Linked DNA regions of Homo sapiens: region 2 is linked to region 1. Evidence: fine-mapped expression QTL. A gene starts in region 1. The other region holds a variant in brackets. All regions are shown on one strand. Distances are from middle to middle.

The links. PIP is the estimated chance that this variant, and not a neighbour inherited with it, causes the effect. A credible set is the group of variants that fine-mapping cannot tell apart.
Region 2: its variant is the best candidate, but not a certain one, in a credible set for the expression of ERH in whole blood (TOPMed, PIP 0.71).

Annotation. Positions count from the first base shown.
Region 1 is chr14:69,396,257-69,401,632 of GRCh38, reverse strand. It overlaps ERH (ERH mRNA splicing and mitosis factor), which reads left to right and starts at 3,334. Exons shown (of 4, transcript NM_004450.3): 1 at 3,334-3,402. The coding sequence starts at 3,400. SLC39A9 (solute carrier family 39 member 9) reads right to left here and starts at 2,941. Exons shown (of 7, transcript NM_018375.5): 1 at 2,168-2,941. The coding sequence starts at 2,263. RefSeq lists enhancers at 2,649-2,988, 1,917-3,116, 3,318-3,825, 3,826-4,334 and a silencer at 3,085-3,325.
Region 2 is chr14:69,368,767-69,374,142 of GRCh38, reverse strand. It overlaps a transcript of GALNT16 not described here. Among named protein-coding and RNA genes, the nearest start is that of ERH, 27 kb to the left of the region's middle. The variant G/A (reference allele first, on the strand shown) is at 2,076.

The DNA.
Region 1 (5,376 bases):
TTCCTTCTAGTGAAAAAGGAAATAGTATATATCCGCATATTGCAATAATCATTCAAGGTAGTTTGAAAAAATACTGGAATTGGTAAAGTTAAAGGCATTTTATAGAAATAAAAAGTTTTACTGGTTGCTTATCAGAATTAATTATGATTATTCATAAATGTTACTTCAATATGTTTAAAAATACACAAACCAACCCAAATCTCACACATGTCAGCCCTACTAATGTCAATTCAATTCTAATATAGTTATAAGAAAATATGGTTATGTCAAAGGAAACATAGCAGGTTCACAAAGTACTGGGCAGGCAGGTAACCCAAATAAGTGAAACAGGCTTCAAGGGCAAGGAGGACTGTGCCTAACAGCTGCTACTCAGCCCGACCCAACCTTTGCCTCTAGGAAATACTGGTAAAGAACAACAATAATAAACTTCTGCTAATGGAACAGTCTGCAGGCTGGATTTGGCACACAGGCTACCATGTATATGTACCATGTACCTTTGCCGAAATGCTTAGTGGCTACGAACTAGTCTGAGTCAGAAAAGCTAGACTGAAAAAATACCTCTCTTCTGATTCTAACAAACTTCATGAACCTATCCAGTCTCCGTTTCCTCATCTATATGTCACTGATTTTTATTTTCTTTTTTTTTTTTTTTAAGAGAAAGAGTCTCAATGTTGCCCAGGCCAACTCCTGGGTTCAAGCAATCCTCCTACCTTATCCTCTTGAGTAGCTAGGACTACAGGCGCGCCCCACCGCACCCAGCTTGAGTTTTTTAAGTGAAGTTAGGTAATGCACGTAATTTTTTAAAATGCTATCATTAGATGCTGAGGGGTACAGATTAAAAAGGAAACAGAAAAAGAACAACAACAATTTAAGCATCTGTTCCATCTGGCTATGGGCTTTACTTTTCCTCAAACTGACAACACCTTGTCCCACCTTCTTTCCCACCCACAGGCTATTTTCACCTGTAATGTCTCCTCTTCCTCAGGTTTCTTCAAGGTGTACTTAATATTTCATTTATACCTTTCCTTTCTACTTCAGGCCTCCTTTGAAAGTACTTTCAGGAATGGCACTGAAACTAGGGCCTATTTTACTGCTGAACTCTAGGACAAACTCATGAAATCTTGTTCCCTTTGAATGTAGTAGTTTTTCCCCCCTAAATCTTTGAACGCTGTGCACTTCGTGAATTCCTTTTGCCTACCTAAAGGACCTATCAGCATGTTCACTGAACAGTGCTTTCATCTATCCCTCTTCCCGGGACCCTCGCTTAACATCTGTTCAAGGTGCCAATCAAATTAACGAAAATGTCAAAACGTATTAACCAAAAATTCATTGCTAAGCAAATAGATTTGAAACAACTTCAGAATATCAATTCCAAGGCTCCCCTTCTTTAAAAGGAAATGTGAGTTAAGAACAATCTTAGTTTTTTCTTACATTCATTCTAGTACAGACATCCAAAAAACAAAACAGCTTTCCTCAGAAAGGTGTGTTTGACTTTCTCAAAAGGAAGTTATCATATTGATTTCAGTTCATGTAGAAAAATAACATTCTCCATTTCTTTTTTTTTCTTTTTTGGAGACAGGATCTCACTCTGCTGTCCAGGCTGGAGTGCAGTGGCCCAAACACGGCTCACTGCAGCCTCAACCACTTGGGGTCAAGCGATCCTCCTGCCTCAGCCTCATTTGTAGGGACAAAGTCCCGCCACGTTGCCCAGGCTGGTCTAGAACTCCTGGGCCCAAGCGATCCTTCCACCTCAGCCTCCCAAAGTGCTGAGATTACAGGCGTGAGCCACCGCGCCCAGCCCTCCATTTATTTTCTTGATAACAATCTGGAATCTTGATTCCATGAAACCTCTGAGAATCAAAAGAAATGTTATGGTGCCTCTCTCCAGGTAAATGCACAGAACCTCAAATTTTTGTAAGCAATTCTAGGGGATTCAGAATACTCCAGGATCTTCCGTGGAATATCTATCCACCCCAGGTTAAGAATTCCACTAATGAATATGAGGTTTCTTTCTATTATTAAGTGTCATGTATCTTTTAAAAAAGATAGTCTTTCTTAATGAGACCTTCAGCTTTGAGATTTAACTAGGGAAGCAGCTTCCCTTTGCAACTAAAACTACTATCTCACAGCCATCCTGACAGCTGACAGAAAATTGAGAATTTCTTACCTCTGAGAAATTAACAGCCAAGGGAATGATTCCGGCCACGTAACATCCCACCAACATAGCCAGAGACAGCAGGCTAATGGAGATGAAATCATCCATTCTGCCCTCCTTTATTCACCCACAACCACTAGACAACAAATTTCCAGTGGCTTTAAATGGTGCTTAGGTTCTTTAAACAGGTGTGGTGGTTCCAAGAGAGTGGGCTTTCCAGTTCTTTAGGCCTTCCCACCAGCAGATGTGTTCACGAGGCACCTTCCTCTTGAACGTACCCGGCAACAGACCCTTTTTGCTGATATTAGCACCAGAGAAAGCTTACAGCAATCTAAGGTCCCAGGCTCTGGGTTCTCAGATGCCAGTCATTAGATTCTCGTGGGTTAACAGAGATGGGAAAAGTCAATGGGGAAAATGTGCGAATGATCGATTTCTTCGATTGTCGGATTGAGGGTGGCACAATGTCTTAGGCGGCGGCGGGTAAGTGACTCAAGCGAACCTGTTCGTTCCCTAGGCGCCCCTGTCTCCAAGAGGCGGCCCCGAAGGTGATCCGCCCCCCAGAGCAGGAAACCAGCCCACCAGTCCCAGCAAACTCTCCTCCGAGCCTGGGATGAGGAAAGGAGTCCTGCAGGTCTCTAACGATGGGTCCTAGGGGTTCAGCAGCAAAGTTGACACAAAGCTGTCTCTGCCCTATACCCGGTGCTGCCCATGGTACTGCACTCGACCGGGCCTTGACCCGGAGTCGCCGATACTACAGCTGCCATGGCCGCCAAGTGGCATCTCTTCATTCCATCCACTTCCGGATTGTCTAACCACCCCCTCCTTTACAAAGGCACTTCCGGGTTACAACCGACCTCCGGCCCAGGATACTTACGTTGCCGCCATTTTTGAGTAGGGCTAATGAAAGATGTCTGATGTCACTGTCTATACCGGTGATCACTTGAGCCGTATGTTTAATAACGAAAGTACGGAAGACAGCGTCTTGAAAAAAAATAATTCTTCCTAAAGCTTGGAAACTTTCCCTTACCTTTTTGCCTTTATCGAAGATGGCTGAAACAGAGTCAGTAGCTGCTCTAGCTGCCGGAAGTGACTGTGCCTCTATGATCCAAAAGGCTCTTTTGCGTTGCACTTTCGACGACTTCCGGCGGCTCCTCTCGCGAGGATTGGCTGTTAGCGGCGTTGTAGTTAAGCTCGTGTAACGGCGGCGGTGTCGGCAGCTGCTGTAGCGAAGAGAGTTTGGCGCGATGGTGAGAAAGGCCTCCGCGGCTACCCGAGTCCGAGTCCCCGGCCTCCAGAGCGACCCCAGCCCCATACGTTTTCCCCTCCCCACGAGCCCCATGCAGCGCCGCGTGATGCTCCCCGCCACTCTAGTCGGTGGATTGACCCTTCTTCCCGCCGCAGGGACGCCAGGCCTGACTCTAGGCCTCGGAGCCCCGGTCCGCCCTGCGGTTGCGCGCCCGCCTGCTCGCTCGGGTCCGGCGTGCCTTGGGCCTGAGGATGAACTCTCTCCCGATTGTTACTCGGTAGAGGGAGACGTGGGGGAGGTGTTTTGTTTTTTGAGATAGAGAGTCTCACTCTATCGCCCAGGCTGGAGTGCAGTGGCGGGATCTCAGACCCCTGCAACCTCTGCCTCCTGGGTTGAAGCAATTCTCCTGTCTCAGCCTCCCTAGTAGCTGGGATTACAGGCGCCCGCCACCTCGCTCGGCTAATTTTTTTATTTTAGCAGAGACGGCGTTTCACCATGTTGGCCAGGCTGGTCTCGAACTCCTGACCTCAAGCAATCCACCCGCCTCGGCATCCCAAAGTGCTGGGATTACAGGCGTGAGCCACCGGGCCCTGCCGGATATGGTATTTTTCCCTCCAAATGCTCTAGCCTGCTGTAGGAACAATGGGCCAGGGTTGTCTAACTATTCTCGAAGCTGACAGATCCAGCTATACCCAGCATGTGGGCCAGGAGAGGACGTATTTGCTTTGCAGTGTTTTTTCAGCTTTCGTTTTCCTGTGCTCTGCCTTTTTTTTTTTTTTCCTGTTTTTGAGACCTCTAGGTATTGCGTGTGGCGCGTCCCTCAGCCCTCGATCCTGTACTTATCTGTATTTATATCCTCTTGGGGCTGGAGGCTGAAAAGTAGGCTCAGCTCAGAGACCAGCTCTATTAGAACCCAACCGGGATGATCAGTAAGCTCCAATTCGAAGAAAGTGACCAAAACTGGCTTGAGAGGTGGTATAATCTGTAAAGAATTTGAGCAGGAAAGCATTGCCATTTAAAAATGATAACCACTTGACCACAGTTTTTAAAATGTATCATGTTATGTTCTTAGTGATTTTTAATCCTTGTCTTTGGGCAGTAAGTACTGAAAATAGTAAACTTTGCCCGGTGTTCATTTTAAGACTAGATATAAAAAGCAACATGCTGTATAGCTTTTTCCATTCTTACCCTTTCAAATTAGTCCTTTAATTTGCATTAGAATTGGAATACAATTATTATAGTAGCAGTTGAGATAGCTAGTGTATAGGGCAACCTCTGTTGCAAGAATGCACGTGGTTTCTACAAAATTATTTTTTCTTAAATGACTCGTTGAAACTTTTTGAGTAGCTAGCTTACAAAGACTTCTGTATAACAAATAATCTAATATGATGCTTTCTGTGGCTTTTAAATCGATTTAACAAAGGCTTTGACTGCTCAGGTTATTACAGGTGAGAGTTAATCCTTCGTCTCTTGTCACCAAGTTCCGTTTTTATGTCAAACCCTCTGAAACTTTTAGTCAAAGTGGTTTAGTTCTTGATGGGGAGAGAAGGGTATGATAACCCTTGGTTTTGCATGTCATGTTAAATGTACTATTTTTCCATTGTTTATTCAGAAAGTCTGGGCTTCAGCTATTTCTGTTCCAATTTGATGGTTAAAAATTCTGATCATTTTGTCCAGGCGCGGTGGCTCACGCCTGTAATCCCAGCACTTTGGGAGGCCGAGGCAGGCAGATCACCTGAGGTCGGGAGTTCAAGACCAGTCTGACCAACATGGAGAAACCCCATCTCTACTAAAAAGACAAAATTAGCCGAGCATGGTGGTGCATGCCTGTAATCCCAGCTACTTGGGAGGCTGAAGCAGAAGATTCGCTTGAACCCGGAAAGCAGAGGTTGCGGTGAGCTGAGATCGCGCCTTTGCGCTCCAGCCTGGGCAACAGGAACAAAACTGTCTCCAAAAAAAAATTATGTTATTCCAA
Region 2 (5,376 bases), 27 kb after region 1:
TGGAGAAGTTGAAAGAAGCTAGATGATGGTCTGAGGGGAATTTCAGTGATACCTTAGAGGAGGGCCAGGCACAGTGGCTCACGCCTGTAATCCCAGCACATTGGGAGGCTGAGGCGGGCAGATCACTTGAGCTCAGGAATTTGAGACCAGCCTGGGCAACGTGGCAAAACCTCATCTCTACAAAAAATGCAAAAATTAGCTGGGTGTGGTGGCATATACCTGTAGTCCCAGCTATGCAGGAGGCTGAGGTGGGAGGATTGCTTAAGCCCAGGAGGTCACAGCTGCAGTGAGCCAAGCCGAGATTGTGCCACTGCACTCCAGCCTGGGCAACAGATTGAGACCCTGTGTCAAAAAAGAAAAAGGAAAGAGAGAAAGAGAGAGAGAAAGAAAAGAACAAAGAGAAAGAAAAAGAAGAGAAAGAAAAAAGAAAAGAAAAAGAGAAAGAAGACTTAGAGGGAGATAATCTCTTAGTGATTTGCTTTCCTGTCTACTCCACTACATAGTTTGTCTTGTAAGCCTAAGAAAGATGTTTTGCCTTTGAAGATAATAGTAACTCCTTCAGCTACATTTAGAGATCCTGTGTCAACATATCTAGCATACCCTTTCTTTTTTGTAATTATACACTTAAGTGGATGTTCAGTTTGAGACATACTGTGAAAAGGTTGGTTTAAAAGCCTTTTCTGTGCCAGAGGTAATTTTCTTTATGCTTTTCAAGAGACTATGAAGAGGCTAATGAGAACTGATGACATCGCTTAACTGAGACAGGCCCTGCATTCTTGTCAATAGATGTTTGAAGTTAAAGTGTGTGGGCTGTAATTTAAGAGAAATGGGATAGATCATGGTTTCTTTCTTGGAAGCCCAGGGTTGGAGGAGTTGTCATGGTAATACTAACTCCCACCTTTACCTACAAGCATTTGTTGTGGAGTACCTACTCTGTTACAGGACCCTTGGGCTTGGCCAACTATATTGCCTCTCTAGCCTTGGAGAAAAAGAGTATAGTTGAGTCTTTTAGTGTCTGTTCCATGGTGAGTAGTTTGAAGAGTATCCCACAGTTCTGGGTCCTTGCCCTGCAATGCCCCTGGCCATTCTAGAGATCACTTTGTCCTTGACACTGTCAGTGAGCTCAGAGACCTGTTAGAAGTATGGTCACCAACTTCCACCTACAATGCAACTCCAGGAAGGATTACCACAATGCTCATCCCAATTATTTTGCAAATCCCAATGGGAGGTTGCAGGTATAATGACAGAGGGCAGGAAACCTCATGTTTCTTGCAGAGTGTTAGGAAAAGATTTGAAGGTGCAGGTACTGAAAGGCTGTTGAGGACAAATGCTTATTAGAATGAAGTTGATTAGAGATCAAAGTCCTGCTTGATACCTCAACGTATCCTTGATACCCTTGCTTCTCTTAAGCCAGGCCCTCTGAATCTTTTCAGGTACTTGGATTGAGAAATTACTTCTTTCCTTCTTAGAAAAGGCTGAAGATCCCAGGCATGGTGGCATGCGCCTGTAATCCCAGCTACTCGGGAGGCTGAGGCAGAAGAATCTCTTGAACCTGGGAGGTGGAGGTTGCAGTGAGCCGAGATCGCATCACTGCACTCCAGCCTGGGCAACAGAGCAAGACTCCATTTCAAAAAAAAAAAAAAAAAAAAAAGGCTAATGATCACTACTAAGACAATTATGTATTTGAGCCTTGTGACCTATGTGTGAATGGTGAGCATCTCTGAATACTACCCAGCATTCCTGCAACAGACCAGTGTAGATATTGGGATTCCACAGTTTGTATAAGATTCTATGTCAACAGACCCCGTATCAGTGAGTCAGTGTTTGCAGCCAACACGGAGTATGTTGCCCCAAGAGCCTGTGGATGGATCACTCAGGCTTCCCAACAAGGACAACCGCCTCACCTCCCCCTGCCCATCACCAGCTTTGATAGGCACTCCAACCCCCAGCCACCTTCTGCCTAGACAAGCTCCTCTTCCTACTTGGGCTCTAACTCCTCACTGCAGGCCACTCCTGCACAGGGATGCCCTACTCATCCTGCTCATCCATAAAGGTAACTCCACATTTATGTGACC[G/A]GCTGTCCTAGTAACAGTTATGCTGTTTCCACCTCATTTTCACTGTTTAACTTAATCCTCGGGTAAGTGTAGAGCCAGGTGAATGATAACTTATTATTATTTATTATTTATTTTTTTATTTTTTTTGAGACAGTCTTGCTCTGTCGCCCAGGCTGGAGTGCAGTGGCACGATCTCGGCTCACTGCAACCTCCACCTCCCGGCTTCAAGCAATTCTTCTGCCTCAGCCTCCCAAGTAGCTGGGATTACAAGCTCACGCCACCACGCCCGGTTAATTTTTGTATTTTTAGTAGAGATGGGGTTTCACCATATTGGCCAGGCTGGTCTCCAACTCCTGACCTCATGATCCACCCACCTCAGCCTCCCAAAGTTCTGGGATTACAGGCGTGAGCCACCACGCCTGGCCAATGATAACTATTATTACAAAACAAACTCTTAAGAGTTTTGCACACTTTCTATATGTACGTTATACTTAATCAAATGTATTCCCCAGCAATATTTAATATTGCTGTTAGGCCGGGTGTGGTGGCTAACGCCTGTAATCCCAGCACTTTGGGAGGCCAAGGCGGGTGGATCACGAGGTCAGGAGACCGAGACCATCCTGGCTGACATGGTGAAACCCTGTCTCTACTAAAAAAAAATACAAAAATAAGCTGGGCGTGGTGGTGCGTGCCTGTAATCCCAGCTACTCGGGAAGCTGAGGCAGGAGAATCGCTTGAACCAGGGAGTGGGAGGTTGCAGTGAGCTGAGATCGCACCACTGCACTTCCAGCCTGGCGACAGAGTGAGACTCCATCTCAAAAAAAAATAAAAAAATTACTATTAATACAATACTACCAGAAAGAAGTCTAAAAACATTCATGTTACCGTGAAGTTACCCCTGTATCTTAGTGGAGGCCAAGGACCCCAGGGCAGTCCAGTCACCAGCTGCTCAGGCAAGGAATCTTGTTCAACTTCCGGCACTTCTTGATTCTCTAATAGGCTATCCTTGTAGCACTTTGATTCTCTAATAGGCTGTCCTTGGCCCTTTGGTAAGGGCCAAAAGATCTGATAAAAACATAAGGACTGTTTATTTGGTTTTTAAAATTGTATCAAGCTATTTCAAGAAATATTTTTAAATTGCTAAAGCTGCTCACAAAGCAGTAATGACCCTAGCATAGGTGGGATCTTGCCTTTTGCATTGATTTGCACTTGGCGCACTGTTCCTGTTGGAGATGGAGGGCAAAGGAGAAGATAGCACCAGGAGGCTCCTTTGCCCATCAGTATAAGATTCCAGCAGTATTAAGGAATTATTGTGATTTTTAGATTTGATAATGCCATTGTGGTTATTTTTTCAAATTCTCTTTTAGAGTGTATACTGAAATATTTACAGATAAAATGACATATATGAGATGTGCTTCAAATAATCCAGTGGAAGGGTGTAGATGAAACAAGATTAGCCATAAATTGATAACCTGGGTGGTGGGTTTCACCTCTTCTTTTTCATATGCTTGAAACTTTCCATAATGAAAAGTTAAAAAAAAATAAAAGATTCGATCACAAAGTTATATCCTATCTTGGCTACTGCATAGCGGTAGTGCTAAAGCCAGTAGGAACACTTCTAAGACTGACAATGCATCCATGATCCTTACTCCTCCATAGGGCTTTACCATTCACAGACCACATTCACTGCTCCACTCCACCTGGATACGCTGCCCCACCCTCTCCCCTCAGCCTGAGCAGAAGAGGGAATGATGCATTATCAAAGCAGGGCATATTTGGGCCACAAAAGAAGCCTTTGTTGAGGACGACTTGTCTGGTTGCTTGGCAGGCGGAGCTTGCAAGGAAGCCCGAGGTAGCTCTGCTATGTCAGGCTGGTGTTCTGTAAGCCTGGGAGCAGTGGGGAATGTTTGGGGCCACTGAAGCTGCATTTCTGACACATGCTAATGAGCTCGCCCAGGGATGTAAACAGAGTCAGCACTTCAAACTAAATTCTGGTGACATTTAACAACCCTTGCTTAACCACCTCCCTAGACTGCTTCTGACTGGACACAAGAATGCCAATAGAAAAGGGGGCATTTCCCACCTCTGACAGCTTTCCAATGCCAGTTTATAAAAAGCTGCCAAATGTGCCCAGCCTCACTCAGTGTGGGCATCCCCAAAGGAGAAGAGCAAATGTGTTTTCTGAATTCCCAATTTCAGGCCTCTCCACTCATCTCTACAATCTTCCCCAGTCTGGTTGGGAAGTAAGCTGTCCTCAGGGGGACCTTAGAGAGCTCCTTCAGGGAGTCGGAAGACTCATTAAGCTGACAGTTGACAGCTGATTTTGTCATGCTAACTTTAGACTGTTCCTAATCAGGAGCCACTAGTCCCTGAGGTGGTTGTGTTCATTGCCTACTTGTAAAAGTAGGTCTTTCTCTAGTTTTGAGTGCACGTGGTTGCGTCACTCTGTAGGTAACGTGGACAGAGCTGGGGAGGCCAACAACATGGATGTTCCTATTGAAGAAAAGTTAACCACTCCGTTCCCTAAGATCAGCCGCTTGCCTTGAAGACACATGCCAGTGGTTCACAGTGGAGCTCACCACCCCTCCTCATGGACCCCATCCAAAGCAGCTCTGTCTTGAATGGTGTTGCTAGCCAGCCAACCTTTCACGGCTGAGGTCTGGGTACAAGCTTTCATTTCTTTCTTCCTCACTTTCCACATCCAGTTGGTCAGCAAGTCTTGCTTTTATCTTTGTCTCTCTGCCTCTATTCATTTATTTAATTATTCATTTCCACAAATATTTACTTAGCACTTACTATGTGCCAGACACAATGTTAACATCTGGGGATATAATGGAATAAGACCGTCTGCCATGATCCCTCCTTCCATTCCTATGTGTCCTCCTGTTTGGGCCCTAATCAGAACCCCAGTGCCTTCATCAGGCCCTCATCAGTTATCATCTGCAATAGTTTCCTAATTGATCTTCCTACCTCAGGGTGACTCTCGATCAGTTAGTCAGTCATCATTCTCTCGTTACAAATGACAGAAACCCATCCTGACTTAGCTCAGGCAACAAGAGTGAGGGGTATAGTTTATTGAGTTGTGTAAACAAATTACAGGAATGGCCAGAGCACAGGTGAGTCTTAGGATCAAGTGGAACCAGAAGCTGATGGGCAACAGGAATGCCTGCTATTTCTGGTCCCTGCTTCCCTTGAAGTGTTAGTGTCATTCCCATCACAGGCCAGCTCTTTCCCACAGGGATGCCCATTGTCTTCGAGTTTTACCACTTTAGAAAGATTCCTTCTTTCTAGTCGAGTTAAAAGATCCCAAGAAATGTTCTGA